Homo sapiens: one gene and its partners. The protein of the gene in region 1 purifies or fractionates together with the protein of each later gene. This does not show direct contact. Each region holds a gene or a part of one and is shown in the gene's direction. Other genes may lie near its edges. The genes, in order: NHSL3, NCKAP1, BRK1 and NCK2.

Region 1 (8,081 bases):
GGTGCTCCCATCCCAAGGCTGTCTGTCCCTTCCTGGTCTTCCCTGTAAAATGTAAGAGGCTCAGCCACACCTTTGGCCTGGCTGCCCTGTCTGGAGTGAGGAGTCTTTGTGGAAGGAGGCCAGGCCCAGCAGAGGACAAAGCTGGCTCCTGTGGAAGGCAGGTCTCCCAAGTGGAAAGGGGGATTGGTGTGTGTGAGGGCAACATCAGGGTGGTCCTGGGCTTTCCCCAAACAGAGGGGCAAAGTTGGAGGGCCCTTAGGATGCTGCCCCAAGCCTGGTTTTTGCTGGTTCCTCCCTGGGGACAGGCTGGAAGTTTCCTTCCTGGTCAGGTGACAGCCTGGCTCCAGGTTGAACTTTGGGCCCTATCCACAGGGACTGCTGGGAAGTCAGCTCCCTCCGCTGCCTGCAAGGCCAGCAAAGACATGTAGCTGAGCTGAGCAATCATTATTCCAGGGAGCCGGATCCAGCTACAGCTGAGACACAGGCTAGCTCTTCCTAGGCTAGCCCTCCCTGGGTGGCTCAGAAGCATGTCTGTCCTTTAGGCCAGGGGGCAAGAGGGAGAGCTGGGCCTGCTGGTCTGAAGGTGGTCCGGGCTGGGGATGAGAAGTGAGAGTCTCTGGGTGCTGGAGTCAGGAGCAGTGAAGGGAATATAACCCTGAACTCTCCTCATTTCCCTTCTTCCTCTCCCTACCTGCAAATCAGAGGATCCAATCTGTGGGTTGATTCCTGGAAATTCTAGTTTGAGGGGAATTTCCCTGAGGAATTATATGAGACACTGGCAGGGCTATCTTCAGAGGCATGCAAACTGTGTAGTTATGCATAGCCCATGCTCAGAAAGGCTCTGTGCTTGGTTGAATGTTTTGCTGTTGCCTCTTTTTTTTTGAGACAGAATCTTGCTCTGTCGCCCAGGCTGGAGTGCAGTGGCACAGTCTCGGCTCACTGCAACCTCCACCTCCCGGGTTCAAGCAATTCTCTGCCTCAGCCTCCCAGGTAGATGGGATTACAGGCACCCGCCACTATGCCCGGCTAATTTTTGTATTTTTTTTTTTTTTTGGGATGGAGTTTCGCTCTTGTTGCCCAGGCTGGAGGGCAATGGCACGATCTAGGCTCACTGCAACCTCTACCTCCCAGGTTCAAGCGATTCTCCTGCTCAGCCTCCAGAGTAGCTGGGACTACAGGCATGCGCCACTATGTCTGGCTAATTTTTGTATTTTTAGTAGAGACAGGGTTTCTCCATGTTGGTCAGGCTGGTCTCGAGCTCCCGACCTCAGGTGATCCGCCTGCCTCAGCCTCCCAAAGTGCGGGGATTACAGGTGTGAGCCACTGCACCTGGCCTAATTTTTGTATTTTTAGTTGAGACGGGGTTTTACCATGTTGGCCAGGGTGGTCTCGATCTCCTGACCTCATGATCCGCCCTCTTTGGCCTCCCAAAGTACTGGAATTACAGACGTGAGCCACCGTGCCCGGCATTTTTATTTTTGAGACGGAGTTTTGTTCTTATTTTCCAGCCTGGAGTGCAGTGGCACCATCTCGGCTCACTATAACCTCTGCCTTCTGGGTTCAAGCGTTTCTCCTGCCTCAGCCTCCCGAGCAGCTGGGACCACAGACAAGCACCACCATGCCTTGCTAGTTTTTTTGTATTTTTATTTATTTTATTGAGACGGAGTTTTACTCGTCGCCCAGGCTGGAGTGCAATGGCATGATCTCGGCTCACTGCAACCTCCACCTCCCGGGTTCAAGTGATTCTCCTGCCGCAGCTTCCTGAGTAGCTGGGATTATAGGCGCCTGCCAGCAAGCCTGGCTAATTTTTTTTTTTTTTTTTTTTGAGATGGAGTCTCACACTGTCACCGGGGCTGGAGTGCAATGGCGTGATCTTGGCTCACTGCAAACTCCGCCTCCTGGGTTCAAGTGATTCTCCTGCCTCAGCCTCTCGAGTATCTGGGATTACAGGCGCTTGCCACCTTGCCTGGCTAATTTTTGTATTTTTAGTAGAGACGGGGTTTCACTATGTTGGCCAGGCTGGTCTCAAACTCCTGACCTTGTGATCCACCTGCCTCGGCTTCCCAAAGTGCCAGGACTACAGGCGTGAGTCACCTTGCCCGGCCTGCTATTGCCTCTTGAAATTCTTTTTTTAAAAGACAAAGTCAGGCCAGGCACAGTGGCTCACGCCTGTAATCCCAGCACTTTGGGAGGCCGAGGCGCGTGGGTCACCTGAGGTCAGGAGTTCGAGACCAGCCTGACCAATATGGCGAAACCCCGTCTCTACTAAAAATACAAAAATTAGCCAGGCGTGGTGGCGGGCGCCTGTAGTCCCAGCTACTCAGGAGGCTGAGGCAGGAGAATCGCTTGAACCCGGGAGGTGGAGGTTACAGTGAACCGAGATTGTGCCACTGCACTCCAGCCTGGGCGACAGAGCAAGACTCAGTCTCAAACAAACAAACAAACAAACAACAACAACAACAAAAAGACAAGATTTCACTCTGTTTCGCAGGCTGCAGTTCAGTGGCGCGAACATGGCTCACTATAGCCTTGACCTCCTGGGCTCAAGGGATCCTCCCACCTCAGCCTCCCGAGTGAGTAGCTAGGACCACAGGCACTTGTCACCACACCTGGCTAATGAAAAACAATTTTTTTTTTGGAGAGATGAGCTCTTACCATGTTGCCCAAGGCTGGTCTCGAACTCCTAGGCTCAAGCAATCCTCCCACCTTGGCCTTCCAAAGTGTTGGGATTACAGACATGAGCCACTGTGGCAGGCCTTGAAATTCTTAATAAGTTTTTTTTTTTTTTTTTTTTTTTTTTTTTTGAGACAGAGTCTCGCTCTGTCACCCAGGCTGGAGTGCAATGGTGCAATTTTGGCTCACTGCAACCTCCGCCTACCGGGTTCAAGCAATTCGCCTGCCTTAGTCTCCCAAGTAGCTGGGACTACAGGCATGCACCACCACACCCAGCTAAGTTTTTGTATTTAGTAGAGACCGGGTTTCACCATGTTGGTCTGGCTGGTCTTAAACTCCTGACCTCAGGTGATCCATTTGCCTGGGCCTCCCAAAGTGCTGGGAATACAGGCCTGAGCCACCATGCCTGGCACCTGTAACACTTTTCTCTTGAAAACTGCATTCTCTACATTCCCTTTCCTCACCAACTAACAGAGGAAGAGGCTGGGTTCTTAGGAGTGCTAGGCTGGGCCAAGAGCACCCAGAGTACAGGGCTGGTTCCTGATCCAGAATGGGTGCTCTGGGATTGTGGGCTGGATCTGAATGAATGGTGGTTAGACAAGAAACTGAGGCCCAGCATGGACACTGGGTGGTCTGCCCCAGGGCCCCCAGGTGGGAGAGTGTCAATGATGTCCCAGGTTCACCACAGCTGAGCCCCTGGGGACATGCAGGGGGCTAAGGCAGGTTAGGGAGATCCCACTGCACTCTAGTAATCCTGCAATGTTATGGTGAGTGCTATCTACAGTGCGCCGGGGCTGACTGGGCTGGGTGGCCCAGACAAATGGGCCCCTGCCCTCGTGGAGACCAGGACCAAGAGAAAGCCGTGTGACCAGAGTCAGATTGGGTGATTCTGGCCACCCCACTGGTATGGACATCACAAGGCCCTTCTGGGGACTGACGGAGGAGGTTCAAGGGTGCTGAACCCACAGCTGGTCCCCAGCGCAATTTCTAGTCCTTAGGGTTTGAAGCCTTGGACCAGCCTGAGACAAAACCCAGATGACCATCTTGGCTCCTCTCCCGCTGACCACCTCTGTCCCCTTCTGGCCTCCATTTCCGTTGTCGTGGGATCAGATGATATAAAAGGGCTTGGTCAGCTGTAATAGACCCAGAGGCCTGTAGGCAATGAGTACAGCAATTTCAGGATTCTTAATGTTTCCTTTCCTACCAGCCTCCCAGTCACACCTCTCACCTGCCCAGAGTTCAACCCTAATTAGTGTTGAGCATCTCAGTGGGAACTCCTGGTCCAGGCAGGAGTGCCCTGGGGCCTCAAATCCTAGTCCAAGGGTAAACGGAGGAAGGGCTATCCTCATCTTGCCACCAAAGGGTGAGGCAGGAACACAGTGGACCTGGGCCCCCGCTGCACACCGAAGATGGTTGGAGCCTGGAAGGTGTGGTAAAGAGCGAGGAGGCGACCCCAGTCAGCAGATGGGAGGGAAATGCCCACTGCGGGTCACAGGTCTTGGACGTGTCTGAAGCCTCTATTCCTGGCGCAAGCGCCCCAACACTGTCGGGGCTTGGAAGGAATTCTCCAAATTCCCTTATTCCAGGAAAAAATATTCCAGAATCCCCTGTCTATTCCCAGCCCAAACTTGGGATACCAAGTCTCCTGGGGTCCAACCCCAGCCTCTCGCTCCTCCTTTCCTGCGCCCTTCCCCTTTCCGTCCCCACCCCATACCACCCTCTTCCGAACAGATCTCCCGCGGTGCCCCCTGCGGGACGGAACCTCAGTGCCGCCCCCTCCCGGGCGGCCCCACGACCCGCCCTCTCGGGCCCCAGCGGGGGGCACGACCCCGGGCTCCCGGGACCCCCTCCTCTCGGGACTGGACCTCGCCCTCCGCCGGGACCGGGGGAGGCGGGGAGGGGCCGCAGGCAGCGGCGCTCCCGCCCTGCGGCCGCTCCCGCCCCGCTCCTTCCCTCCCCGCCGGCCTGCGCCCCGCCCGCCGCTCGGCCGGCCCCTCCCGCGCCGCTCCCGCCGTCCGCTCTCCGCGCCCGCTCGGCCTCCGCCGCCCAAACTTTTCTCCGGGCGCGCGTCCCCGGCGGCCGCCCCCGGCATGGGCACCGCGCCGCAGGGGGCCTGACCCGCCGCCCGCTCCGCCCCCGCCTGCCATGGCGGCCCGCGCGCCCCCCGCCGCACCTGCGGCCGAGGAGCCGGGGAACCCGGGCGGCCCCCCGCGCAGGAAGAAGTCCCGCTCCGGCGCGTCCGGCCTCCGCCGCGCCTTCAGCTGGCTGCGGGGCAAGCGGCGCAAGAAGAAGGCGGCGGGGGCCGAGGGCGCCGAACCGGCCGCCCCCCGGGCCAAGAAGGCGGAGGACAAGGCCAAGAGGGCCAAGGGCAAAGGCCGAGGTAAGGCGGTCGGCACCTGGGCTGAGCGCGGGGGGGCGTCGAGGGTGCGGCCGAGGGGGCTCTGCCGGGGGTCCGCGCGCGGCGTGTTGGAGGGGGGTGACCCCCAGGAGCTGGTGCTGGAAAGCGAAGAGGCCAGGGCTGAGTCCGAACACTTCCACCCTGCGCTGCCTTCCGCAGTTTCCAGACCCAGTCCTGCCCCGCTGTGAGGGGAGGGGACCCCCGGCTGGGGCAGGGATCCCCTGGCAGAGCAGGAAGTGCTGGTAGCCCGACTCCAGGGCGGTGAGGCGATTCCCCCTCCCCCAGGCTCACCGAGGTTCTGCCCTCTGCTGAGTCAGGGGGTCAGAGACTTAACGCTGGCCTGTGGCCAATGGGAGAGACAGGTGGCCTTGGGTCTCTGGTGGGGACCCTCTGGGTCTGGAAGGTCAACCGCACTCACAAAGAGTTTCAGCTCCAGCTGGATCTGGATTTCCAGCCCCACAAAGGACCTCACATGGAGCACAGTGTGCCCTGCCTTAGCTTCTTAACAGTGCTGGCTTTTCCCACCTGGCCTCCCTCAACGCTCACCTGGGCCAGGCCACAAACATCACCTCCTGGGGTAGTGAGCTCACCAAGGTGAACCAACCCGCCCCTCCCTATCACTCCTTCTTCCAGCCCTGGAGAAACATGCCAGTGTCGGAAGTGTGCTTACAGATGGGGGAAACTGAGGCCCAAGCTCAGTGGAGAGGCTGTACCTGGGCTGGGGTGGGTACTTAAAATTCAACAGCTAATTCTCAGTCTTTCTGAATTTGAGTCCCTGGGCTCCTCCTCTGGCCTGGACGGGCAGCCTGAAAGGCGGGGAAGCCGACCTGGCCCATCCCTGCTGGGGTCATTTTCAGTTCCTTTCTTGGGCCTTCCCTCATTTTCCAGTTTCTGTCTTCCTTTTGATGGGGAGGGCTTGAGTCTTTGCAAGAGGGTGGAGCTCCCTTGGGGCTTGCTGTCCTGGGAAGTCCACCTTTCCTAGACTGCTGCTGCAGTGCTGGAGGTGAGGAAATGGCTGGGTGTGCGGGCCCATCCCATTCTGCCTGTGTTTACCCTCCCAGTGTCCTTTAACCACCTCTTCTGGGAGAGTTAGAAGGAACACTTTAGGGGTCAGGAAGAGGGTGGAAAGCCTCATGTGTGATTGTATCCGGCTTGATCTTCCTTTTGGATAAGGGCCCTGCTTCCCTGCGGCACAGCCACACATAGAAGTGAGGGTGCTGGGGCTGGGGTGACTGGGCCAAACCCTGAGGGAGGACTGGATTTGGGTGAGGGGTGTTTCCAAAGCCTCTGCAGTCCTAACAGGACATGGAGTCTGTCCCAGGGCTGCCCCACTGGGATTCAGTCTGAAGTCATCCCCGTCTCATTCAAGAGGGCATTGCAGCAGGATGTATTGTGGTCAGACTGTCAGGATTGGCAGGCAGAAGGCTAGTGGACTAGCAGTGTATACTCCAGGGCAATGGACCTTTTTCCTCTGGGAGACCAGCCTGGAAGGCAGGGGGCTGGAAAAGCTGAGCCTGTAGGTCACTGCTCCAACAGCCTGGGTTTGGGTTCATTGGGTCAGTGGCCAGGCCTCCCTCTTGCCTTGTGTTTGGTATCAGGTGGCTCTGGGCTTTCTGGGCAGCATGTCGGCCTGATTTGAGCCCACGTGCATGGGTAACACCTCCTTGCCCCTGGCTGTTGTTTCTCCAGGTCTGGAGGTGGCCCTGGGTATGACTGGAGGAAGTCCTGTTCCCTTTTACTCCAGCCTCCTATTATTGCAACTGTTTCCTTGTCACCTGCCTGGCCCAACTTCTTTTCTGTTTATTAAGAGAAATAAATCTGATCCCACTAATCTCCACTGGCAACGCTGGCCAGGAACGGGAAGCCTGCAGAAGGCTTAACTCTTTCAGGGAGAATGTTCAGAATGGAGATTGGGAGAGGTGGGGAGGAGGGATACACAGGAGATTCCTGGGAGGTCAGGGATCTTTGCTGGGGAAGTCATTATCTCCTCCATTCCAATCTCTGGCTCAAAGACCTATGAGAGGCAGGTCTTGATTCCTCTAATCTGACTCTCCTACTTTAAGATGGAAAAACTGAGCTTGTCATGGAGTTTTGAGCACCAGTCTTCCATGATTCCCTTGCTGACCTCACTACCCTGCACAAACTTAGAAGAAGAGAGGAAGTCTGACATTTATTGATTAGTCTGAATATGTCAAGATCTTACTTGCAGATGAAAAAATTGAGGCTCAGGGACAGTGAGTGACTGATTTGACCAAACGGATTTAAACTCAAATCACCTGCCTCAAAAATCGGGACTGTTTTCATGACTCTCCCAAGGACATAGAGCAGCAGGTAAGGCTTGAAGATCTTCTTGTTCAACTCACTTTACAGATGGGAAATGGCCCAGAGAGAGAAGTGAGGGAACTTGATAGAGTGGGGAGAGTATCAGAATCAGGCCAATGAGAGTTTAAATCCTGGCCCAGCTACTAGCAAGCCCCATGATGTAGGATGAGCAACTTCTCAGTGGGCTCCCTGATTCCACCACTGTCTTGTGGGGAAGAAAGGGGGAATCCTCTGGCTGGACATTGCCTTGATGGGCTGTGACCTTTCTGTCTCACCAAGATTCTCACAAGAGAGCATATGAAAATTATATTAAAGGCTGGGCGTGGTGGCTCATGCCTGTAATCCTAGTATTTTGGGAGACCGAGGCGGGCAGATTGCCTGAGCTCAGGAGTTCGAGACCAGCCTGGGCAACACGGTGAAACCCCGTCTCTACTAAAATACAAAAAATTTGCCAGACAAGGTGGCGTGCACCTGTAGTCCCAGCTACCCGGAAGGCTGAGGCAAGAGAATTGCTTGAACTCGGGAGGCGGAGGTTGCAGTTAGCCAAGATTGCACCGCTGCACTCCAGCCTGGGCAACAGAGCGAGACTCAGAAAAAAAAAAAAGAAAAAAAAAAGAAAATTATATTAAAGAGAAGTAACCATAGAAATGCAAGGGGTTGCTATGCCTGTGTTTATAAGTTTAGTCAC
Region 2 (7,755 bases), on another chromosome or scaffold:
ATTTATAGATACGATATGATTAGACATTGAACCACTATAATTTTTCATTAAACCACTATGGAGATAAACACAGGTCTAGTAATATTGATTCACTTTGTTCATTTATTCATCTTTTCTGACTTGATATTTTATATTCATGCTTCCAAGCAAAGTGATAACTTTAGAATTATCCTGTTGGAATGTGCCACAGAAAGTATACAAGTTTTGTTTGGCCTAGCAGTAGGAAGTTAGAACCAGCAGCACCTCACAGTATTCAACCTACATTGAATCAGTTGTTCAGTATACTTAGTTTTGCTGTAGTTTCTGCTTCAGCCAAGTTTCCGAAATTCTCTGGTGTTCTTCTAGGCAGACTCTAATAAACAGTGAGCTTTCTCAGAAATTTGTTAGACTATTTATTGCTCTGTAATTCTTTTGTTTTTATCAGGTTGCAATGAATGTGTATGAGTTATCATCAGCTGCCGGATTACCTTGTGAGATTGATCCTGCATTGGTCGTAGCTCTTTCTTCACAAAAATCGGGTAAAATGCATTAGTAAATATTTAATACTCTTAGTTAAAGTTACCAGGGCAGCATAGGTATAGGTATGATATTTAACCATATATTCAAATGCCTGCTTTGTGTTCAGCTTTTTAAATTTGTTATTATTATTGCTGGTACTTGGACTATATCAGTGCATAAAACACAAACATCACCCTTCTGGAACTTAAGATTGGTTGAGATTACTGAGCCATTTAGTGTATATAGATGCAGCAGTGAAGAGGATCCAGGTCTGAGCCTTGAGCCATTCTAAGATTTAAGAGCTCAGGGAGAAAAGGAAAAACCACGAAAAAAGAAATTTAGAGAAATTGAGAAGAAAGGACCAATGAAGTAGAAGAAAAACCAGGAAAGGGTAGCTTCCAGGAAGATAGAAAGGAAATGATCAGCTATGTAGAGTTAATTGGTGGTACTAACAAGATCAGTGTCAGTGAGGTTTTATGGGCAAAAGGCTGAGTAGTGAGTAAGGGAGATTAAGGGAGAACAGGAGGAAAGGATTTGGAGATAACTAGAAGACAACTCAAAGAGTTCTATTGTAAAGGGAAGCAAAGAAATAAAATCTCACCAGCTGGAGGCAAGAGCAAAGTCAAGAGAAGGATTTTTTTAAGATGGAGGAGATTACAGCATTTGTATGCTAATGGGAGATGGTCCAGTAGATAGCAAAAAATTGAGATCTAGGAAAGGGTATTCTGTTTTTATTGTACTAGAGTTATTCACCATCAAGAGTTTTATATAAAACATTTAGAAATTTTTAAGACCAGCCCTTAGAAATGCAGTACTCAGAATCCTGTAGATATTTCTTGATTTGTCTACAAAGTAAATATAGCATTTCATCTCTTTCTACTACTAAAATGCCCCTTCTGCCTCCTTGAGGCAGCAGCATGGTGTTTGAGTTCATCAGTTTTTTTTTTTTTTTCATTTAACAATGCAATTTTGTTTCCTCATTCATACAGTATGTTACATTTAGTCACATGGATAATTATAATTATTACTTGATTTGCTACAGCTGTATTTTTTGTAGTCGACCAAATCTTTAAAACATATTTCAGCTCTTTTCTTACATTCAATTCTTAATTATATCTAATGGTGATTAGTAGCCTAAATAACCCACAATTTGAGTGCATATCACAATAAATGTTTTAGAAAGGGTTATGTCTTGAAAGCTTTAGAGCAATGCTGGGTATTTTTATTCATGACTAGTTTCTTCTGTCTTCTTCTGTCTTCTTTTATTCATGACTAGTTTCTTCTGTCTTCTAAAATAGAGAGGTTGAAAACCCATTCCACTTTCCACATTTATGTCTTTTAAATAGTAAATTTCAAATTATATTCATATCTCTTTCAAAAAGTAATTAAGATTTTTTTGGTGATTTTGCAGAATAATTTATAAGTTTTCTAAATTGTAAATAGAACTGTCTCATAAAGTAATAATTCCTCATTAGTTTTCAATTAGGAAATTGTAGGATTGCAGTTATCCTAACTGTATTTTTTGTTCTATAATCTTACAATTAAAAAAAATAAAATCTTACCTTACTGTTTTATCAGACGTCCTTGAAATATGCCTAAGTAGTTGATAATAGTCCATTGTAATATAAACTGTTTCTACTTTATATTTTTATAACAAAATTGTGACCAATTCTATAGAATGCTAGTAAAATAGTTTACTATTTCAAAAAAAAAAGTAAACCATTTTTAAAATAAAAATCTGTTTAGTTTAGATTATCAAATCTTAACTAATCTTGAAGAAATACCTTGATTTTATTCTTAATTTTTGTCTCTTAGAAAACATTAGTCCAGAAGAAGAGTATAAAATTGCCTGCCTTCTCATGGTGTTTGTGGCAGTTTCTTTGCCAACACTGGCCAGTAATGTGATGTCTCAGTACAGCCCTGCTATAGAAGGTAATAGTGGTTTAAAATTGTTTTGGCGATGAATAAATCATGGGTTTTGGTATTTTATAATAAAATATGAGTTAAGTTCTGCCACTAACTGGCAGTGGAACATGGGGTAGTCTGTTTCCCTTTTCCTAAACTGCAGTTTCCTGATATATGAAATGTGTGTAAGTAAGCTCATGTGTGCCTGAATGTGTGTAGAGGTCGGTGAGGGATTATCCAACTCATAGGATTATTTTAAGGATTGAATGGTAAAATGTTGTAAAGCAGCTAAGCACTTCCTTTTTATTTCCGAGCTACTATAAAACTGATGTGTGATTTCTTTTAGATGTTTTCAGAAGTGTTTGCCTGTTTAACATATACACGATCGTTTGTTACTCTCCTGTTAAACTAGTTTTAAAAACATCAGTGTTCATGAAAGTCAAAGGAGAGCAAGTCCGGTCATGTCCCAACTCTACTCTTAATTATGCCCCTATTTATGCAGATTGTGAAGTCATTAAAGATTTGCCTTCTATGTATTATTTGCTATTTTGGGGTCTACACAACCCTATTTGCATTTTCTCAGGGCATTGCAACAACATACATTGCTTGGCCAAAGCCATCAACCAGATTGCTGCAGCTTTGTTTACAATTCACAAAGGAAGCATTGAAGACCGTCTTAAAGAATTTCTGGCGGTATGTATAATCAAATAACAAAACTCATCACATTTTATAAAGAAAACTAAAATTCACAACCACAAAATGTAAGAATAAATTCTCTTTATTTTTACATTTTATTTAGTGTCCTCTAATGGCATTTTGTTTTCAAATTATTTTCTCAGGTATATGAATTTCAGTCTCCTTTTATTTTTATTTGTTTATTTTCTTTTTTGGAGGGAGAAACAGGTGAAGGTGGGGCATTAAAATCGAGGAGCCGTCCGTTATTTCCCTTAGACTCGGAAGTCTCTTTCCCAACTCTAGAGCTCTGCAATATGACCTTTTTTCCCCAAGCTGATGTTTGGACTGCCCTAGAAATTTTCCTAGGCTTGAAAGAGAAAAAAAGCAAAGGAAAATTGAGGCCAAGAGAGAAGCTATTCCCTCTAAAAAGACATATTTTACTTTTTTCCATTTCTTTGGAGAAAGACAATTAATGGTGAAAAATTCATCATTAAAAATACTACTCACTACCAAGAGAGAGGAGTGCTAAATGTAGCCTCATGAAACATGGTTTTTAGTTTCTCTATCAATGTAGTTCTTTCTTTTCTTTATTAATATAACCTTTTCCATATTTTATTTAAACGAAAGATATACCATGGCATACTGAACTCTAGAACATTTACTTCTTTTTCAGTTATAAATCCTGTCAGCTTTTTTAAAAAATAATTTTTAAATTACAAATGCAAATATAGTACTAACTTGAGGAGAAAATAACTTCTATTTCAAGGAAAACACTATTAAAAATTTTAAGTGTTTCTTTCCATTTGCAAATAATTCCTTCACTCAGGGTTTAATGTCTTAATCTTACAGTGTTTCTGTGAAGTCAAATCCAGTGTGAAACTGTCTTCTTCCTTGGGAACTAAGAAATATAGTCAGTATAGATAATGGGATGGGATAAGAGAAAATAATTTGAATCATTTTAAAAAGCAGACTTGTTCTGAAAAAATCAGTTTTAAAGACCAATAAGAATATTTGATTACATTTATTATGTTAGTGTCTCTTTGTGCCTTAATTACTCTCTAAATTACTGCTTGAATGTAGGCTATCTAAGCTCATCTTATTTAATTGCTCATTATTTTATATTTAGCACTGAATGATTGAAATGTGTTGGAAGTTGAAACATACCTAAAATAAGTAACCGATGAACCTTTTATTAACAAACTCACTTTATGTGTATGTATACTTTTAAGCTTGCATCCTCCAGTCTACTGAAAATTGGCCAGGAGACAGATAAAACTACAACAAGAAATAGAGAATCTGTTTATTTACTGCTAGATATGGTAAGTCTCATTTTAATTTTTACTAACAATAAAAAAGTTCCAGTCGTTCCTGAGAATCTTTTCTTGGCATCTTAGTCATTGAATACTTTTTTTGATCCCTTTTGTTCACTTCACGTAAGCCACACCTTTCTAAAATTTGCAGAGAAGACTGACATCACTCATATTTTATCATTTCGGTAATATCAGAAGATAACAATCAAAGGTTAGCATTAACTGTGGGTATTCTTTTATGAACAGTTTTTCAACCTGTTGGAAAACACTCAGGCCTTGTATTTTTCTAGTGTATTGGTGTCACCTCTCTTCCAGTTTTCTGAGTTTTCTACATTCTAACTCTATTCTGCCCATTTCTCGTAATTTTCTGTAATTCTCTGTGCCTAGTCACTTCCCTCTCTGCAGTATCTGTGAACCAGCTCTTGCTTGTTTCTACCACGTGGCTCTTTCCCCACTTAGAGTTATTTTCCTTACCTGCAGAAATTGGATTTATCCTAATGACTTAGCACATCCCACAGCTCAAATCTTTTTCCAGATAGTCTTTCTTGATTACTTTGGCCTACATTAATCTTTCTTCTGTTTTGAATTCTTACAGAATTTACAGCTTTCCATTTCATTATAGTCGGTCTTATGTTTGGTTTTGCTTCCTAGCTTAGTCTTTGATTGCCAGGTAGAGTTGATAGTACAAAAAAAAAATATTTTTGTATTGTCTTTTATTTCTAGTATATCAGTGAGGAAAATGAAAGTGCTCAATATATTCCTGTTGATTAAATAAATTTAATTGAAAAGTAGCTCTTTTTAAACAGTTTGATATACATTCACTGTGGCACATTTACATTTTAGATTAAGTAAAAGGAAAATAATATGTGTCTATTGCTAATAAGAACAATATAGAAGTTATGCCTTACTGGTTGTCAATAAATGTTCCCATTATAAATAACTTATGATTTTTGTTTATAAACAAGTTATAAATAACTTGTTTTGATGGATTTTTTGAATTTTACAGATTGTACAAGAATCTCCATTCCTTACAATGGATCTTTTGGAATCTTGTTTTCCTTATGTCTTGCTGAGAAATGCATACCATGCTGTCTACAAACAAAGTGTTACATCTTCTGCATAAAATTACCTACTTAATCAAGATAAGCACGCATTTTTGTTGCCTTGGTTTTACCTGTAGACTGTGGAACTATTTTACCTTAAGACCTGAAAAAGTTTTGTGGATTATAAATTTCTTTCATACGGTTGTATTTTCTGATCATTGGTTTCTTAATATGGTTGTACTACAGTATACTTGGTTGATTTAGGTTGCACATTCACTGAATTCACTGAGATTATTCCTATAATTTTAAAGTATCATTTATTTGAAAAACATACATTATCAACATGTTTTTGATATTTGATAATGAAAAAAATCTTTGCTTGTTTATTTCTGAAAAAGAACTGTATTTAGTGATTATTTTAGATAGTGATATTATAGTATTCATCTGTGTGTAAATTATTTCATATAGGGAAGAGTTCTGATCTGTACCTATGGTTCTTATTGAAAACAACATTGGATGTGCATTTCTGTGATGTTATGAATACATTTCTACTTTATTTTGAAACATTTGCCAAACTAAATACTGTAACACTGTATAACATTTAAAAATGTTAAAGAACTGCTTAGTATTAGAAGCAGATCATTTCCCAAAATTCTAAGAGCAGCAGCATATGTTGTTGCTTGTATAAAGCCTAGCGATAATTTTTAGACTAACTTCCATGGTGCCCTGTTGGCATTAGCACTACCATTGTACCCTGCTGTATAATAAACAATCTTAGACATTTATCAACTGTTGATACAAATGTTAGTCCCTAACCACTTTTTATATATGTTTTAAATTTTTGAAATTCAAGTGTACCTGCCATAACATAAAATAAACACTAGACTGTATCACACTTCGATTGATTTCTTTAAGATCCTTGGATATTCGTTCAATAATAATAAAGTTTTTGTTTAAACTTAGTTTGAAATATAAAAAATAATGGTTTAGGAATGTCTAAGTACAGCATTCGATACCAGGTCAGCTATTATATGATTTGTTTAAATGTTTTAAAAAACATTTTATTGAAAAAAATACCAAAATTAGAAAATAAAATTACACAATACTTCTTAAAAATTAAGAACTTAAAGAAAACTTGTATGCTGTCAACTTGCTCATTTTATCTGTAACCAAATAGAGTTATTTAAAAGAATAGGGAAAAAAAATTGAGTGATCATGGGACTAGTGAGAATGTTGAGAACTGCTGCATTAGTCAGTAATGAATGGGAAAGACATAAAAGGGCCTATTGCTTAATAGTTGGCATGGAGGGCAAAGCAGCTCATTTAGTTTGAAAACTAACCCAATGTTTTGCTCTTTGATTGGCATTGTTGAGGCTGTTTCTCAGCAGCTTTGTATATGAATATCATAAAGAGCTTCTGTTCACAGCTTCTTATGTATACACTGGTAACTTGTGTTAAGATAAAAGAAGGCTGCTGTGAACTCAGTTATAATGTTTTTCTTTCTTCAAACATAGAGAGTAGAATGAAATTGAAGTACTATGAGATTATGCTATTATTTTGTGTATGATTTGTCCAGCCTATATTTAAAGTAGGGAGTAGTTGTCACTATCTGTCGAAAAATTGTACTTGTTCCATAAAGATTTTTTAAAAAGGGAAATTTTAAAATGGCATAGTTCAGACCTGAAATAGTCTGATTTACACAGTGAGCAGTCAAAACTAAGATTTAATGCCGTTTGTTTTGAAATATTAGGATCTTAGAGAGGTAATAACTTTGTTGGCAGTGATCTCTGGAGAGGTAAAGTAGGAATTTGGATATGTACACTTTGGAATCATATGTGAAAGGGCATAAGGATGAAAATAAGGCATTCTCTACCACTGCTAGGCTGAGAAAAAAATCGCTCCTCATAGTCACCTGAAGTTTTTGTCCAAATTTTTTCTCATACAGCAAAGGCGGGGGAGGAGGCGTGGCAAAGGTAACTTGGAGGAAAAAGTTAAAAGTAAATTGACAACTACTATTTTTAATATCTTGTTTGTTTTATTTTCTTCTAAACTTACACAACAACATACTATTTTTGTTGTTTTCTCTACATTAATGTGATCATACCATACATACTGGCCTGTAATCTGCTTATTTCACTCAGTAGTAGAAAAAATGTCTTTAATATTCTTTTTAATACCTTTATAGATACCATAACTAATTTAACAATTTCATGGCCAGGCGTAGTGGCACACGCCTATTTCAGCACTTTGGGAGGCCAAGGCGGATGGATCACTTGAGGTCAGGAGTTCAACACCAGCCTGGCCAACATGGCAAAACCCTGACA
Region 3 (7,755 bases), on another chromosome or scaffold:
GTAATCCCAGCTACTCAGGAGGCTGAGGCAGGAGAATTGCTTGAACCGGGGAGGCAGAGGTTGCAGTGAGCAGGGATCGTGCCACTGCACTGCAGCTTGGGCAAAAGACGAGACTCTGTCTCCAAAAAAAAAAAAAAAAAAGATTGACACTATCACAATGCAAGAGTTTAGAAAAAGACCCCACCGGCTGCGAAACTGGATAAATTAAATTATAAGGATAGACTTGAGTATGTTGTCTTGGTATTGAATGAGTCAGGATGACTATGTATGGGATGTTTTTTTCCCATCCTAAGCCATTAGTAGGCTTGTACAATTGTCCCTTGAACAATACATGTTTGAAGTGCATGGATCCATTTACAGGTAGATTTTTTTTTTTGAGACAGATTTTCATTCTGTCACCTAGGCTGAAGTGCAGTGGCATGATCTCGGCTCACTGCAACCTCCATCTCCCAGGTTCAAGTGATTTTCTTGGCTTAGCTTCCTGAGTAGCTGGGACTACAGGTGTGTGCCACCATGCCCGGCTAATATTTGTATTTTTAGTAGAGACAGGATTCGCCATGTTGGCCATGCTGCTCTTGAACTCCTGGCCTCAAGTGATCCACCTCTGTTCAACCTCCCAAAGTGCTGGGATTACAGGCATGAGCCACTGTGCCTGGCCATAAGTGGATTTATTGCGATAAAAGTTATACAGTATGCCTACCTCTCCTGCCTCCCCTTCCACCTCTGCCACCCATGAGGTAGCAAAACCAACCTCTCTTCTTCCCCTTCTTCCTCAGCCTACTCAGCAGGAAGACAATGAGGATGAAGACCTTTATGATGATCCACTGCCATTTAATGAATAGTAAATATATTTCCTTTTCCTAATGGTTTTTTTTGTTTGTTTGTTTTGTTTGTTTTTTTGAGACGGAGTCTTGTTCTGTTGCCTGGAGTGCAGTGGTGCGATCTCGGCTCACTGCAAGCTCTGCACTCGCGCCACTGCACTCCTGCCTGGGCGAAAGAGCAAGACTCCATCTCAAAAAAAAAAAAAAAAAAGAATTTACTTTGAGGCCAGGCACAGTGGCTCATGCCTATAATCCCAGCACTTTGGGAGGCCGAGGCAGGTGAATCACTTGAGCTCAGGAGTTTGAGACCAGCCTGGCCAATATGGCGAAACCCCATCTCTATAAAAAATACAAAAATTAGCCAGGCATGGTGTCTCATGCCTGTAATTCCAAGCTACCTGGGAGGCTGAGGCATGAGAATCACTTGAACCCTGGAGGCAAAGGTTGCAGTGAGCCAAGATCGTGCCACTGTACTCCAGCCTGGGTGACAGAGTGAGACTCTCTCTCAAAGAAAAAGAATTTACTTTGAGGGAGCATCTGAAGTTCTTCAAATATGTTAGCAATTCTGTAGTCCTTACCCTGACCACAGAGAATCTGCATGGGCCATGTATTTTGGAGAGAGAACTGTTGTTCTAAGATAGTGAATGACTTTCTGAAAAGCATTTACCTTGTGATTCCTGCTGGTGAGAGTAGAGTCACAGTCTCCCACGTGAACTTGAGGACATACAAATCGTAATGTAGCAAAAATATCATAACACTAGGCCTATTTTGCACTTTGGAATTGGTGAAGTTTCTAAAAATAGATGGTTAGAGATTATCGCTTTTTATTCTTATGCTATTTTTTTCTGGTTCTAAAGGTAATATATGCAGAGAAGTATAAAGACAAAATAGAGAATGTGGCTGTTTTTTTAAAATCTTGGTTTTTGTACTGAGCCAACAAATGTAGCATGCCTGGTGTGTGTCAGATGCTGTGAGAAAGGAATAAATATGAATAAATGGGTATGATACCCACTCCTAAGACATTCAGAATTTTGCTGGAAAAGTAAGACTTAACTACAAAAACATTCCAAAAGAAAGACAGTTTTTGTTTTTTTTTTGAGACAGAGTCTCATTCTGTCGCCCAGGCTGGAGTGCAGTGGTGCAATCTCGGCTCACTGCAACCTCCGCCTCCCGGGTTCAAGCGATTCTTCTGCCTCAGCCTCCTGAGTAGCTGGGACTACAGGCATGCGCCACCACGCCTGGCTAATTCTTTTTTTTTTTTTAAGATGGAGTCTTGCTGTGTTGCCCAGGCTTGAGTACAGTGGTGCAATCTTGACTCACTGCAACCTCTGCCTCTTGGGTTCAACTGATTCTCCTGCCTCAGCCTCCCAAATAGCTGGGATTACAGGCACACACAACCATGCCCAGCTACTTTTTGTATTAGTAGTAGAGATGGGGTTTTGCCATGTTAGCCAGGCTGGTCTCAAACTCCTGACCTCAAGTGATCTGCCCACCTCAGCCTCCCAAAGTGCTGGGATTACAGGTGTGAACCACCGTGCCCGGCCTGACAGTATTGATTTTTGTAATGCTGAAGTTATATGCATTAAGTTCAGAGAAGGAGCTGTCTGATAACAGCATTTGTTTCCTAACGAGAACTGGTATTTTCAGTTAAAGGCTGGTGATAATGTACACATACTTGTGCTCTGGTTTCAGATTTATCCAGCTGCTGAATGCTTTCTCAGTGTTTTTTATTTGAACCAGCGTATACTTATTAGGATTTGAAATATGACCAAGGTTTCTGCAGTTGAACATTTTCTATTTCTCAACAGTGTTTATCCATGTAGGCCAGGAGCATAGTATTGTTCTTGAATTCTAATTCATTACCAGATTGACAGCTAGAACAGAATAGCCACCCAGGAAGGAAACTTCCCTCTCTCCTACCTCCCCCAATAATTTTCGTATGTCTTCATGGGAAATGGCAGGTTGTCAGAGATAATATTCATGCTCTTACTCAGTAGCATACATAACGTGCTTTCAGACTTCCAAAAACCAGACTGAAAAGAGGCTTGGTCCTGTTGGGCAGTTCCGACAGAAAGTGGCAGTACATCCAGGAAAAGGGGGATGCTGAAGTGATCATACTTAAGCTAGACCTGGGAATTCAAGCAGCACAAGCGTAAAAAGAATGAAGAATGTCCAGAAATGGCAAATCCATAGAGACAAAGATTAGTGGTTCCCAGGGACTGAGGGGTGACAGAATGGGGAGTGACAGGACTAAGAGGTATAAGGTATCTTTTGGGGATGATGAAAATATTCTAAAAGTAGATTATAATTATTGCACAACTCTGTAAGTATACTAAAAACCACTGAATTGTATACTTTAAGCAGGTGAAAGAATGGAAAGTGGCAGAGTTGGGCTGGAGACCTGGGGTATAAATTATAGCCCCGGAGGCACAGAAAGATGATAGTAGTGTGCATTGGGATGCACACAGTATGGGAAAGAATACCAGTGACCCAACATGGGCCCTCAGCTTACCTAGACCTCAGTTTTCCCACTTGTAAGGTGAATAGAGTTACACTAGAGTCAATCTTTTGTTCCACTAATATACCAGAATCCATCTTTTTTTTTTCAGTCAACATCTATGTACCAGGCAAGATGCTAAGGTTACAAGAGGCAATATGTACTTCTTTTGATTAACTTGTTCTAACGGTGAAACAGACATGTAAATAAATTGTAAATTACAAGTACATAAATATCATTTGGTTTCGTAACATGAATATTTTCCTATTTCATTAAATATTCCTCAAACTTTTTTTTTTTTTAAGACAGAGTTTCACTCTTGTTGTCCAGGCTGGAGTGCAATGGTGCAATCTCGGCTCACTGCCTCAGGTGATCCACCCACCTCGGCTTCCCAAAGTGCTGGGATTACAGGCGTGAGCCTCTGCACCCGGCCACTTTTTTTTTTTTTTTTTTTTTTTTTGAGATGGAGTCTCGCTCTGTTGCCCAGGCTGGAGTGCAGTGGTGCAGTCTTGACTCTCTGCAACCTCCGCCTCCTGGGTTTAAACCATTCTCCTGCCTCAGCCTCCAGAGTAGCTGGGATTACAGGTGTGCGCCACCATGCTTAGCTAATTTTGTATTTTTAGTAGAGACAGGATTTCTTTTTTTTTTGTATTTTTAGTAGGTATGGGGTTTCTCCATGTTGGTCAGGTTTGTCTTGAACTCCGACCTCAGGTGATCCGCCCGCCTCGGCCTCCCAAAGTGCTGGAATTACAGGCATGAGCCACCGCGCCTGGCCACTTGTAACTTTCAATGGCTATTTTAATAGTCTCATTAATACGCTATATCAAACCATTCCAATCATGGGCATTTGGTTTTGTTGCTTTTTCACCATCTTAAATAGTAGTGATGCACATTCTTATTTGTAAAATCTTTATCCAAAGAGGGAAGTCATAACCAAAGACCAAGTACATGAATAACTTACAAATTAGAAATTCAGAGGCTGGCACGGTGCCTCACGCCTGTAATCCTAGGACTTTGAGAGGCCAAGGCAGGTGGATTGCTTGAGTTCAGGAGTTTGAGATCAGCCTGGGCAACAAAGTGAGACCCCCATATCTACCAAAACAAAAAACAAAAAAATTAGCCAGGCACAGTGGCATCCACCTACTGAGTAGTAATTGCAGCTACTCGGGAGGCTGAGGTGGAAGGATCACTTGAACCTAGGAGTTGGAGGGTGCAGTAAGCTATGATTGCAACACTGAACTCTAGCCTGGGTGACAGAGCAAGACCATGTCTCTTTTAAAAAAAAAAATTCATCCGTAAATGTTTAGATAAATACAGAAGAGGAAGAATTATTATGTCCATCTGGCAAGACCTCTCAGAGATAGAATTTGAACTTAGCCTTGAAGGAGATAGGCAGGCAAGATGAGTAAGATTTGGACATAATAAGATGAAAGTTGAGGCAAGATCAGGGTGTAGGAAGATTTGTCAAAATGGATGCTGAAGCGCTTTTGCAAAACAGCCAGGGAATAGATGAAAAGGAAACTTGTTAGCTAAGTGTTAAATCATTGCGTGGGAGAGTCTCAGCGAATATTTCAGACTTGAAAACTGAAGTTTATTGAGAGATGACTGAACAACAATGTTGGAGGAGAGAGTAGAAGATAATGACCATGCTAAGATACCTTTTCTCTCATATGTTGAGAATAGTTGGAAAAAGAATAGTTCCTGTTACAGAAGTTTGCAGAGAAAAAGTTGTTTTAAATTAAATCTGGTTTCATTTTGAATGAGATGGTAAAAGAAGATTGGAAAAGCTAGAGGAAGAAGAATAATTTTGGCTGTTTTCACAGATGGAATGTGGGCTTTATCGGGTATTTGATGCTCTCCAACTTTTCTCTAGTTCTGAAAGGCCTTTGCCTCTAGGAGCAACAGTAGTGACATGGCTTTAATGAGCTCAGAACTCTCACACCTTCCCTCCCCATAATTTCTGCTGCTTTCTTGGCCTCTACTTTCTTTCCTTTTTTTTTTTTTTTGAGACGGAGTCTCACTCTGTTTCCCAGGCTGGAGTGCAGTGGTGCAATCTCGGCTCACTGCTACCTCCATCTCCCGGGTTCAAGCAGTTCTCTGCCTCAGCCTCCCGAATAGCTGGAATTACAGGCGCCCGCCACCACACCCGGCTAATTTTTTGTATTTTTAATAGAGACGGGGTTTCATTGTGTTAGCCAGGATGGTCTCCATCTCCTGACCTCGTGATCCACTGCCTTGGCCTCACAAAGTGCTGGGATTACAGGCCTGAGCCACCGTGCCTGGCCTTTTTTTTTTTTTTTTTTTTTGAGATGGAGTCTCACTCTGTCACCCAGGCTGCAGTGCAGTGGTGCAATCCCAGCTCACTGCAACCTCCGCCTCCCAGGTTCAAGTGATTCTCCTGCCTCAGCCTCCCGAGTAGCTGGGACTAGAGGCACCCGCCACCACACCCAGCTAATTTTGTATTTTTAGTAGAGATGGGGTTTCACCATGTTAGCCAGGCTGGTCTCAAACTTCTGACCTCAGTTGATCTGCCCACCTTGGCTTCCCAAAGTGCTGGGATTACAGGCGTGAGCCATCACGCCCAGCCTCGTTTCTTTCCTGTTGAGATTATTTTCTTATTCTTGCCATGTCCCCTCTCTTGAAAGTCTTAGTTAGGCCATTAGTAAATGGCTGTACAGCCTTGGTGTATTCATTTGCTATTCCTGGCATAACATATTACCACACAGGCTGGGCACAGTGGCTCACACTTGTAATCTCAGCACTTTGGGAGGCCAAGGCGGGCGGATCACGAGGACAAGAGATTGAGACAATCCTGGCCAACATGGTGAAACCCCGTCTCTACTAAAAATACAAAAAAAAAAAATTAGCTGGGCATGGTGGCGCACACCTGTAGTCCCAGCTACCTAGGAGGCTGAGGCAGGAGAATCGCTTGAACCCGGGAGGCAGAGGTGGCAGTGAGCCAAGATTGCGTCACTGCACTCCAGCCTGGAAACAGAGTGAGACTCCATCTCAAAAAAAAAAACCAAAAAAACAAATTACCACACATTTTGTGGCTTAAACCACATACATTTATTATTTACCATGTGTAGGTCATAAATCAAACACTGGTCACTGGGCTAGCAATCTTCACACCTTGGCCAGCAGTCTTCACACCTTGGCCTTCTGAAGTATTAGGATTACAGGCATGAGTCACTGCTCCTGGCCTGGGCTCCAATCAGGGTTTCAGCAGGACTGCCTTCCTTTCTGGAGGCTCTAGGAGAGGGTCTAGTTCCTCGAATATTGGGTTGTTGGCAGAATTCAGTTTCTCGTGGTTGTAGGACTGAGATCTCTGTTTTGTTGCTGGCTGTGAGCTGAGAGTTGTTCCCAGCTTCTAAAGGTCACTTACATCCCTTGGTTCATGGCTCCCTTCTTCCACTTTCAAAGCCAACAATGGCAGATTGCATCCCCTTCACACTTGGAATCTCTTTTTCTTCTTCCATTTCATCTCTGACCCCCTTCCTATGCCTTTCTCACCTACATTTGTGGACTATGATTAGATTGGGCCCAAATGGACAATCCAAGACAAACTCTAGGATCTCAAGGTTCTTAACCTTAATCATACCTGCAAAGCCCTGTTTCCTCATGTATAATCCATATTCACAGGATCCAGGGATTAGAGAAAGGACTTTTTTTTGAGACAGAGTTTTGCTGTTTGACCCAGGCTGGAGTGAAGTGGCGAGATCTTGGCTCACTGCAACCTTTGCCCCCCCCGGTTCAAGTGATTTTCCTGCCTCAGCCTCTTAAGTAGCTGGGATTACAGGCATGTGCCATCATGCCTGGCTAATTTTTGTATTTTTAGTAAGAGACAGGGTTTCATGATGTTGGCCAGGCTGGTCCCGAACTCTTGACCTCAGGTGATCCACCCGCCTAGTCCTCCCAAAGTGCTAGGATTACAGGCATGAGCCACCGTGCCCTGCAGGAAAGGACGTTTTTGTGGGGCCGTTATTCTCTACTTGCAACACTTGATAGGAAGTTCAGCAGATCCACTCTAAGCAACTGTGCTATGAGTGGATCTTAGCACTGTATCCATTTCCATTTGTATTCTGTGTATTATTCCTCTTTTTCATTGTAGGTGTTGTGTGTGTCTGTGTCTGTGTTTGGAGTGACATTAATCCTGAACACCAGTCTCTTTTTCTCAGATATGTCTTGTCGTTCAAGACTTGCAACACTAAACGAGAAATTGACAGCCCTTGAACGGAGAATAGAGTACATTGAAGCTCGGGTGAGTTTGATGGGCAAGGGCATTCCAGAGAGAATGCACATTTCCACTTATTGCTGAAAAAAACCTGAAAGCAGAAACAGTCTTAGGAAACTTAAGCACTGGCCGGACATGGTGGCTCACGCCTGTAATCCCAGCACTTTGGGAGGCCAAGACAGGTGGATCACTTGAGGTCAGGA
Region 4 (8,356 bases), on another chromosome or scaffold:
CAGTTGGGGTTATGAACTCTCTTGGAAATGCGAACTTTTGTCTGCTCTTCCTGTCTCCAGCTGTCCTTCCGTGCATGCACCAAATGAGTGTTCCTGGGCTGAGCCCAGATGATGTCCACACTTAACTGCTTTCCTTCTTGGCCTCGCGATCCGCTCTGTGCAGCCTCTGCTCCATTTAGGCAAGTGGGCCATTCTCTGTCCCTACAGGGTCCTCCCACGTCCCCCTGTCTGCCTCAGAGTTCTGAACTCCTGCCGCTGGGAATTTTCTCCCTGTCTATCTCCACCTTTCAAAATCCTACCATTTGCATTATTCAGGGGTTTGGGTTCCAAAAAGAGGAAGTGCCTCTGGGTACCTTAAGCAGAATAGGAGAATTTACTAGAAGAATATCAAGTAGCTCACAGGGGAACTGGAGAGCAGAAGGGGTGAGAATGGAGCTGGCTAATTCCTGTGGGAGGGATGTGCTGGGACTATTTCAGCCATGGCAAATTGAATCTCACCCTCTCTTGTCCTTTTCACCCTCTCCAGTTTCACAGTCTTGAGTGGGAGGGTTCCATTGGCCAATCCCAGGCTGTTCACTCTCACAGGGCTTCTGGGAATGGAGGGACCAAGGTGCCTACTCTGCCTCCCTCCAGGGTTCAGACAGGCTTCTCTAAAACCAGGAAGGGGCTAGAGAGGGGGGCAGCCAAATTAAAGGCAGCTTCCCACCATGTAATCTCTCAAGGTCATTGCCAATGCCACCACCTTTCATAAAGCCTAAAGCTTCTCCTGATTCTCTAGACATATTTTCTTTGGTACTGTTCATATTTAGTTTTATATTATAGTTATTTGTATGCTGGTTTCATCCTTCCTTTTGGGTCTTTCCTCTCCATTTCTCCTAAACTATTTTCCCATCCTTTCACTCCACTCCAGTTTGCGTTATAACCTCTCTGAATAATGCAATCTTATATCTGCTCTTTGCACATCCAGGTGTTCTTTGGTGTCTGCACCAAATGAATGAATCCTGAAGTGGATCTTATAATGCCTTACAAATAGAACTACACCAGATATGCTTAATTGAATTGAGGGTTACAAGAGAAGGTCATGAGAAAGGAGACATGAGTGTTTACCATGTGCTGAACACACAGTTGAGACATGTTTATATTATCTCCTTTAATTCTCACAACGCTTTGCAAGAGCACTATTAATATCTGAGGCTCAGAGAGGTGAAATGACCCCAAGGCACAGGCTCCAAGGTAGGCTTTGAGCCTCTGACGTATGACTTGGACAACACCCTCAACCTTGCTTTGTGTTTTCCGTGAGTCTAAGGAGGGGTTAGAGAAGGCCTTGAATGGAGCTCTGAAAGAGAAGGACGGGGACAGGGAATTCCTAGCTGCCTTCACACCACAGAAGGCTGAAACTAGTGTGACTCAATGTGGCACTGTGGGCAGAGCTGAGTGACTGAAGCAAACAGCTTATACTGGACAGAGGTAAAAAGGAGATTGTATGGCAGGGCTAAGTTGGAGAGGCCTTTGGAAGAGAGATCATAAGATGTAATGCTGATGTGATTTTAGGCAAAAGTTTACTGCACCTCCTTCCACTCCATGTTTTTTATGCTTTCAATACTTTGTGATTGAAGACAGTAAAACAGATGTGGACACATTAATGGAGTAGAATGCAGAAAAACCTATATATTTTTAGATAAAACATAAGCTTCAAAGAAATGTCTCCCCCATGTTAAGCCTTGCAGTGGGTTGGATGTTGGCCCCAAAAGATATGTTCACCTGGAAGCCGAGAACGCGACCTTATTTGGAAAAAAGGTCTTTGCAGATGTTGTAAGATAAGGATGTCGAGATGACATCATGCTGGATTAGAGTGAGCCCTAAATTCAATGATACTTGTCTTTACAAAAAGAGAGAAGGGAAAGGACACAGGGAACCAGGTTGTGTGAAGACAGAGAGGCAGAGGTGGGAGTGACACTGCCACAAGCCAAGGAATGTCTGCAGCCACCAGAAGCTGGAAGAGGCAGGGAAGGATTGTTCTCTACAGACTTTGGAGAGAGGCTGGTGTCTTGATATCAGACTTCTGAACTCCAGAACTTTGAGAAAATAACCTCTGTTTTGTCACCTAGTTTGGGGTCATTTGTTAAGGCAGCCCCAGGAAACGAACACAGGCCTCTAAGGGCTAAATACCCCAGCCTCTCTGGGGGAAAATGCTCAGTCTTCAGTCATCAGATAACTTTTGAGGAGACTGTGGTGGGCAATGGGGAGCCATGAGAAGTTCTTGAGCACAACCAGGGACAAATGGAAACAATTTACAGGAAGGTTAGGATGACATTGATGTCCAGTGTGAGTCTGAGGGATTTAAGAAGGAAGTAATGGGAGACCAGTTGGAAGGCAGTAGTTGTGGGGAATTGAACAAGAGTTTTGGAGTCAGGTACATGCTCTGACCCCAGTTCTTTGATCCACTGTTCAAGTGATTTCATCTGTAAAATGGGTATAATACTATTGTGTGTGGATTAGAGATGATATATGTCAAGAATTCAATCAAGGTACATTATAACTATTGCTAGAATGATGTATAAGTTAGGATGCCAGTGATGGAAATGGAAAGAAAGGTGCAGTGGAAAAGATGTTTAAGAATCACCAGGACTCAGAACCATGGGGGTAGTCTGCAAGGGGTCTTGGTGTCATTCAGCGCTCTCCCAGCTTTTCTTGGGGAGAACTCGGAGAGAGGGAAGGAAAAGCCAAGATAACAATGAGATTTCTCCCAGGAGCTGAGGTGCCTGGTAGACTCTTGGCCAGGCCTGAAACCATGGGAGGAGGAGCTGGTCTGGGGAGCAGATGAGTTTCATTTTGAACATGGTGACCTAGAAGAGATGCTGCGCCATGTTTAGGGGGTGCAGATTAGCTGGGGAGCTCTGCAGATTAGCAGGGGAGCTCTCTAAGGCTACAGGTCTGGGGGTTAATCAATGAAGGTTTAGACAGGGAGTGTACAAAAAACAATCAACTCTCTCTTTAAAAAAAAAAGGTGCGTATCAGAATAAAAACAAAGGGCCACCATCTGCCTTGGGGATATCACTTTTACAGGGTGGGAAGACAACAACCTCTCTAGAGGAGGCAGATGGGCAGGTCAGAAAGGTAAGAGAATCAGAACTGGCTGTGTTTGATGAATGAAAAGATGATGGTGTTTCAGGAAATAGCAGAAATGCCACATATTTCAGAAAACTCCACAGGATAAAGATTGATAAAGGGCCACTGGATTTAGATAGAGAATGACATCGGTGACTTCTAAAGAATCAGAGAAAGAAGAGGCATGCAAGAACCACGATTCAGTGAAAGTTTACAAAGCAAACAAGCTACAAACTGGGTCAATATTGCTATACTTATTTTGAGTAAATTAATCTAAAATTGGGCAGACTGATGACTAGAATTCTTCTTTTCTTATTGTAAAGCTAGATATTAGTAACACAAAACTTGCACAAAAGGATGAACTGAAGTAGCTTCTTTCACAAGGTCAAAACAAGGAAAAATGAGGCTGTTCTGATTCCCTGAGCTTGTACCTGATTCCTGCTCAGTGTACTGTGCTTCCTTCCACTTACTGAGCTATTGAGGGCTACCTACTGCCAGGGTACTTCACATAGGAGGTAAGTAAATATTATCTCCCCATATGACAGATTTTAGAAAGGCTGAGGACCACCTGTGCAACGTTACACAGTTCAGGAAGTCAACAGTCAAACACTCACCTGTCTGACTTCAAAGCTACGCTGACTCTAGTTACCTATCCTTGGGTACTTCCCTTCTGGAAGGAAGCAGGAGATGAGTGAATCAAATAATACAGCCTTGTAACCTTGGGTAAATTATTATTGCCTTAATAGTAAGCAGAGACCAGGAGCCTAAGAAAGAATCTCATTAACATGGATGCAGGCTATCCTGCCAGGAAATCAGAATCATTTGAATATTAGGATTTCCTTTGGGAAACCATATGGGGAGGAGAAAAGACATCCGGATGCATGTGTCTGTGAAAGGGAAACTTGTGTCTTTCCCCTTGCTCTTGGGTTTTCATCTTCCAAGTTTGTTTATAGGCTAGCCACAACTCGAGGCTGGGTGAGCTGAACGGTCCCATCATTAGCGACACTCCTTCTAGGGGCACATTCGGGCAGCTCCTCTTCGGGTTCTGCCCCCACGGGTGTGCAACCAGGATTCCACAGGCTGGGGCTGGCCTGGATGCCTGGGAGGCAACAGAGGTCGAGTTTCTTCTTCTTTTAGGAAGTGCCTCGGACAGGGATGATGGACTAAAAATGTGTCTGGTTGGGAAAGTAAATAGATGCAAAGCAAATAAATAAAAATGCCCACAAGCAATTACAGGGAGGAAGTGACATTTTTATTTAAGTCACTTTTCTGATGGACAACAGGCCTGCTTAGCTGAGTGCCGTGGGAATGCTTCCGGGAGGGGGGCGGCTGCCCAGCAACTAGAGCTTCGTGATAAGAACAACGAACAAACAAAAAAGAGGACGCAAAGCCCACCCGGCAGTCATCCCAGGCTGGAAGTTGCCGTCTGTGTTTTCACTCTCCTCCCCACCCACCTACCCTGCCCCCCACCGCCCGCACGCAATTTCGGGCGTGGGGACCCTTTCCTGCCCCCGGCGCCCGGCCCGTGCTGCGCCTCCAGAGCGGAGCGTCCCGCAGCCCCGCGCTATCCCGGCGCCCGTACCGGGACCCGGGCGCGGAGCCTGGCGACGACGGGGGGCGCCCCAGGTGGGTCTCGGGTCCCCGCCCCGCGCGCCCGGGCCTGGGCCGGCCCCTGGGCGGCGTCACGGCGCGGCCGGGGAGGAGCGCGGGAGGAGGAGGAAGAGCGCGGAGGAGGCGGGCGCTGCGCGCCGGGGGAGGGTCGCCGCCGCCGCCGCCGCCGCCGCCGCCGCTGCCGCGGGGATCGTCAGGCCGGAGCCGCGCGGCCGAGCGGGCGGCGGGCGGAGGGGAGGGCTTGGCGGCCGGGAGGCTCGCGGCGCCCGGGCCGGCAGGGTCCGCCCGGGCCGGCAGCGTCCGCCCGGCGGCGGGAGGAGGGAGCGGCGCAGACAAAGAGCGGCGCCTGGGCGGGCGCAGCGCGGCCACCGCCCCGGGACCCGCGCCGCTGCCCTCCGGCTCCGCGGGCGGCCCACGGCGAGGTAAGCGCGGCTAGGCGGGCGTGGGGCGGGGGCCACAAACTTGGGGCCGTTGGGCGGAGTTGGGAGCGCGGCGGGGCTCGCGGGCCGGGGTGCGCCCGGGAAGGGGCCAGGAGAGCGGGTCCCCTCCGCGCCCCTCCGGTGCTCTCGGCCCTGCCGCGGCCTGGGCGCCCCCGACCGCGGACTGCCGGGCACCTCCCGGCTCTGCACCTTCCTGCCCGCCTTCCCATCCCTAACCCCCACCATCGGGGGCCGGCCCAGGGGCGGGGACGCCAGCCAAGGGCGCGGGCGAGGATCAGGGCAGGGGGCCCGGCTGCGGGGCCCGGGGACTGGAGACCCCCGGGTGCGCAGGCTGCGCCTGGCCTGCAGGCGGGCGGCCGGCACGGAGCTCGGGGCTAGCGTGGGACCGTGCGGTGGCCAGGGTCGCCAGGGCGCGTGTGCCGGGGAAGAATAGCCGCGGATCGCAGGGCCCCGGCGCAGGGACGGGGGAGGCCGCGATCGGCCGGGAGAACTTAACCGTGTTTATTACAACTATTTATGTTCGCGCACAAAGCTGCTGTCACATTGCATAAAGGAGGTCCTCGCTTCGGCGAAGGGAGCTTTTGTGCCCGGCTTCAGGCTCTGCGCCCTGCCCCAGATTTACAGGACTCTAACAGCCACCTGAATGAACCAAAGTTTCTCACAATCGCTCGGCTCTCTCGGTTTTTTTCAGGGCGATTTAATCACCGAGTGCTTTTGGAAAAATTTGATATGTGAGTTTTAAGGCATGGAGGGTAACTGCCTTATGAGCACAGTTAGCTTGGCATTGTGTGGAGGGGTTTAATTTGCAAAACGCTTTAATTTGTAGACAATGGGGATCTCTGTGAAGGTCTGCGGTGGATGCTAGGGGTCATTGGCTGGTGGACCCCAGGCACCTGACTTAAACTAGTATTGTAACAGCTTCAGGGACAAAGCCGAGCGTGCGTGGAGTCGGCCTTGGCCACTTCACACAATTCAGGTTGGCAGATTCCTCTTTATTTGGCTTTGTTTATTTTGCCAACAGGTTTAAGGCTGCTTCTGCCAAGTTTGCATCTGCATAATGGGATGAGCAGGCCCCAGTGTGGGCAGGAGGGGGCCTAAAATATCGCAAGGGCCAGCTCCGTCCCTCGACCCAGAAAGAAACAACCCTGAGAGGCCGGTGGGCGTGGCTTGCTGGGACCTACAGGTAGGGGAGTCCCTTCCTGGCCCAGGCGCAGTCCCCGCTTCTCGGAAGGGATTTTGTGTAGGAATGAAAGTGATTCAGGGTGTTTTTCATGCCTCTGTTTTAGATGTAGTTATCAAGTCTCAAAAGTGACTGAAAATGAAATTAACCTGGGCCGCTTTAACTTACCAAAACGGAACTGTGCGTGTGAACACTCCCTCAATTCACTTTGCAAGCTTCATAGATAAGCAGGTGAATTAGTAACAGGATTCAAGCCTTGCGAGTTTTACGTAAAGAGAATGGCAGTCATCGGACACGTGGAGAAGAAATTGACTTCACCTGGAGATTGGGCTAGACATGGAGGTTTTTTGACGTTTGGAACAGGGGTTTCCTGAGAAGCAAGTGTTAACCTGCTTGTGAAGAAGTGAACACGAGGGAAAATCCTACCTCAGTATATTCTGCCCTGGAGGTTGGTTAGATGTAGTTTTGATTGGAGAAGGTGGCGGAATCTTAGTGGTCTTCTGGCGGCTACTTGAGGCTGAAATGGAGAACTTTAGGCATAGGAAGCTGTGGAGGTGCCTGGCCCACTTCCTGTCCCGGAGGCCTCGCCTGGATTCTGAGCTTCTTTCCTGCTTCATAAACATTCAGGGGGGTTGGTCATGAAACACTGGATGAAATTGGGTCACAAATTGCCATCAGGAAGAGTTGGCTGCTGCATAACCCCCTCTGTCCACTTGTGGAGAAACTGACCCTGTTAACCGTCGGGCTTGCTGAAGGTGCCTTGCAGGTGGCTGTGCTCAGTTTTCATGCTTTGTGTTTTGCTTAGGACACGCTGCATACTTAAATCTTCTTCATCCTTGCTCTGTTTGACCCTGCCATATTCCCAGGCTTTGTCATTTACATTTTCGGTTATTTAGCTTTTCCAACAAACAGCAGATCTTATGTACACAGTACTATATTTGAGAAATGCACTACCATCCATATTAAATACACCGGAAATCTTCCTTGCATGTGCACAGACTGGATAACCTTTTAAAATACCCTAAGACTCCCGGAATGGCGCAGAATGCACTGGAGTCCTTTACTTGATCAGTTGCACTAGCTTAGTTTGCCCTGGATAGACCAGGCTGCGAGGCTCTATGGGACACCCATTTTTCTAACTGCTCAAACTGGCTTGCCGTGTGCACTGGGGGAGACAGGGCTTGCGGAAATCATTCTCTGACATTAAAAATGAGGCTTAAAGACTGAAGAGCTCAGAATTGCTTGCTGGAACTACAGGGGAGGATGATGAGTGATGTTTGGAAAAACAAGTAAGCTAACTTTTTTCACAAATGAACTGGAAACTCCCTACAGCTCACTTCAGATGCTTAGGAAATTAGTTTTCCCATCCAGAGGGTTTGCGAGTGGCACTTCCAAATGGTTTCTGTTTCCTAAAATGAGTGATGGAAATACTTCACGGCACGTTTTCAAAGGGCCTAAGCTAAAATGTGATTTCGTGTATCTTGTTCCATGCCTGAGTTAAGGCAACTCAGAAGAAGGTCGTGACGGCCTTTTAACGGGCTATCAAAAGTGTGCAGCTAAAGCAAAAACAGTTTTGCATTTCTTTAGGCCATTTAGTAGCACAATTAAAAAATTAGACTCTTTTCTTTTCCTGCATTTTCCTTTGAACATTTCCCAAAGTATGTTTATTTCTAAAGGTAAATGAACGTTAGCAAGTATTACCTCTGCCCAGTGACACACATCCACATGTGTACTGGCACATACATTCCTACCTCAAGAATCTTAGTCCTTGAAACTGTGGAAATGAAAGTTATTTTGATTGAGGTAGCAGTGTCACAGTGATGTCATACGGTGTCACTGTCCCTGACCAGCCTCTGTGTTCCCTCTCAACTCCTTGGCTCAGTCTCCTCCGTGTCCTGAGTTCTTACTCATCCCAAGGGTCGTCTCTTACTTCTTTTCTTCCCCACATCTTATCAACTCCAAACTAGAGGGGATGGCATCATCTTTAAACTTCCACAGCACTTTCTTTGTGTCCCTG

What was found.
Region 2: the proteins of NHSL3 (region 1) and NCKAP1 purify together in Homo sapiens (affinity purification with mass spectrometry; 2 studies listed by BioGRID and IntAct, with this or other methods). This does not show direct contact.
Region 3: the proteins of NHSL3 (region 1) and BRK1 purify together in Homo sapiens (co-immunoprecipitation; 2 studies listed by BioGRID and IntAct, with this or other methods). This does not show direct contact.
Region 4: the proteins of NHSL3 (region 1) and NCK2 purify together in Homo sapiens (affinity purification with mass spectrometry; 4 studies listed by BioGRID and IntAct, with this or other methods). This does not show direct contact.

Annotation. Positions count from the first base shown.
Region 1 is NC_000001.11:32,737,137-32,745,217, forward strand, and holds the start of NHSL3 (NHS-like protein 3), read left to right. Parts: upstream 1-4,693; 5' UTR 4,694-4,818; coding exon 4,819-5,053; intron 5,054-8,081. UniProt on the Homo sapiens protein: Able to directly activate the TNF-NFkappaB signaling pathway.
Region 2 is NC_000002.12:182,923,458-182,931,212, reverse strand, and holds part of NCKAP1 (nck-associated protein 1), read left to right. Parts: intron 1-424; coding exon 425-518; intron 519-2,313; coding exon 2,314-2,430; intron 2,431-2,986; coding exon 2,987-3,096; intron 3,097-4,307; coding exon 4,308-4,397; intron 4,398-5,394; coding exon 5,395-5,511; 3' UTR 5,512-7,755. UniProt on the Homo sapiens protein: Part of the WAVE complex that regulates lamellipodia formation. The WAVE complex regulates actin filament reorganization via its interaction with the Arp2/3 complex. Actin remodeling activity is regulated by RAC1.
Region 3 is NC_000003.12:10,118,130-10,125,884, forward strand, and holds part of BRK1 (protein BRICK1), read left to right. Parts: intron 1-7,496; coding exon 7,497-7,579; intron 7,580-7,755. UniProt on the Homo sapiens protein: Involved in regulation of actin and microtubule organization. Part of a WAVE complex that activates the Arp2/3 complex. As component of the WAVE1 complex, required for BDNF-NTRK2 endocytic trafficking and signaling from early endosomes.
Region 4 is NC_000002.12:105,739,998-105,748,353, forward strand, and holds the start of NCK2 (cytoplasmic protein NCK2), read left to right. Parts: upstream 1-4,914; 5' UTR 4,915-5,141; intron 5,142-5,608; exon of another isoform or gene 5,609-6,342; intron 6,343-8,356. UniProt on the Homo sapiens protein: Adapter protein which associates with tyrosine-phosphorylated growth factor receptors or their cellular substrates. Maintains low levels of EIF2S1 phosphorylation by promoting its dephosphorylation by PP1.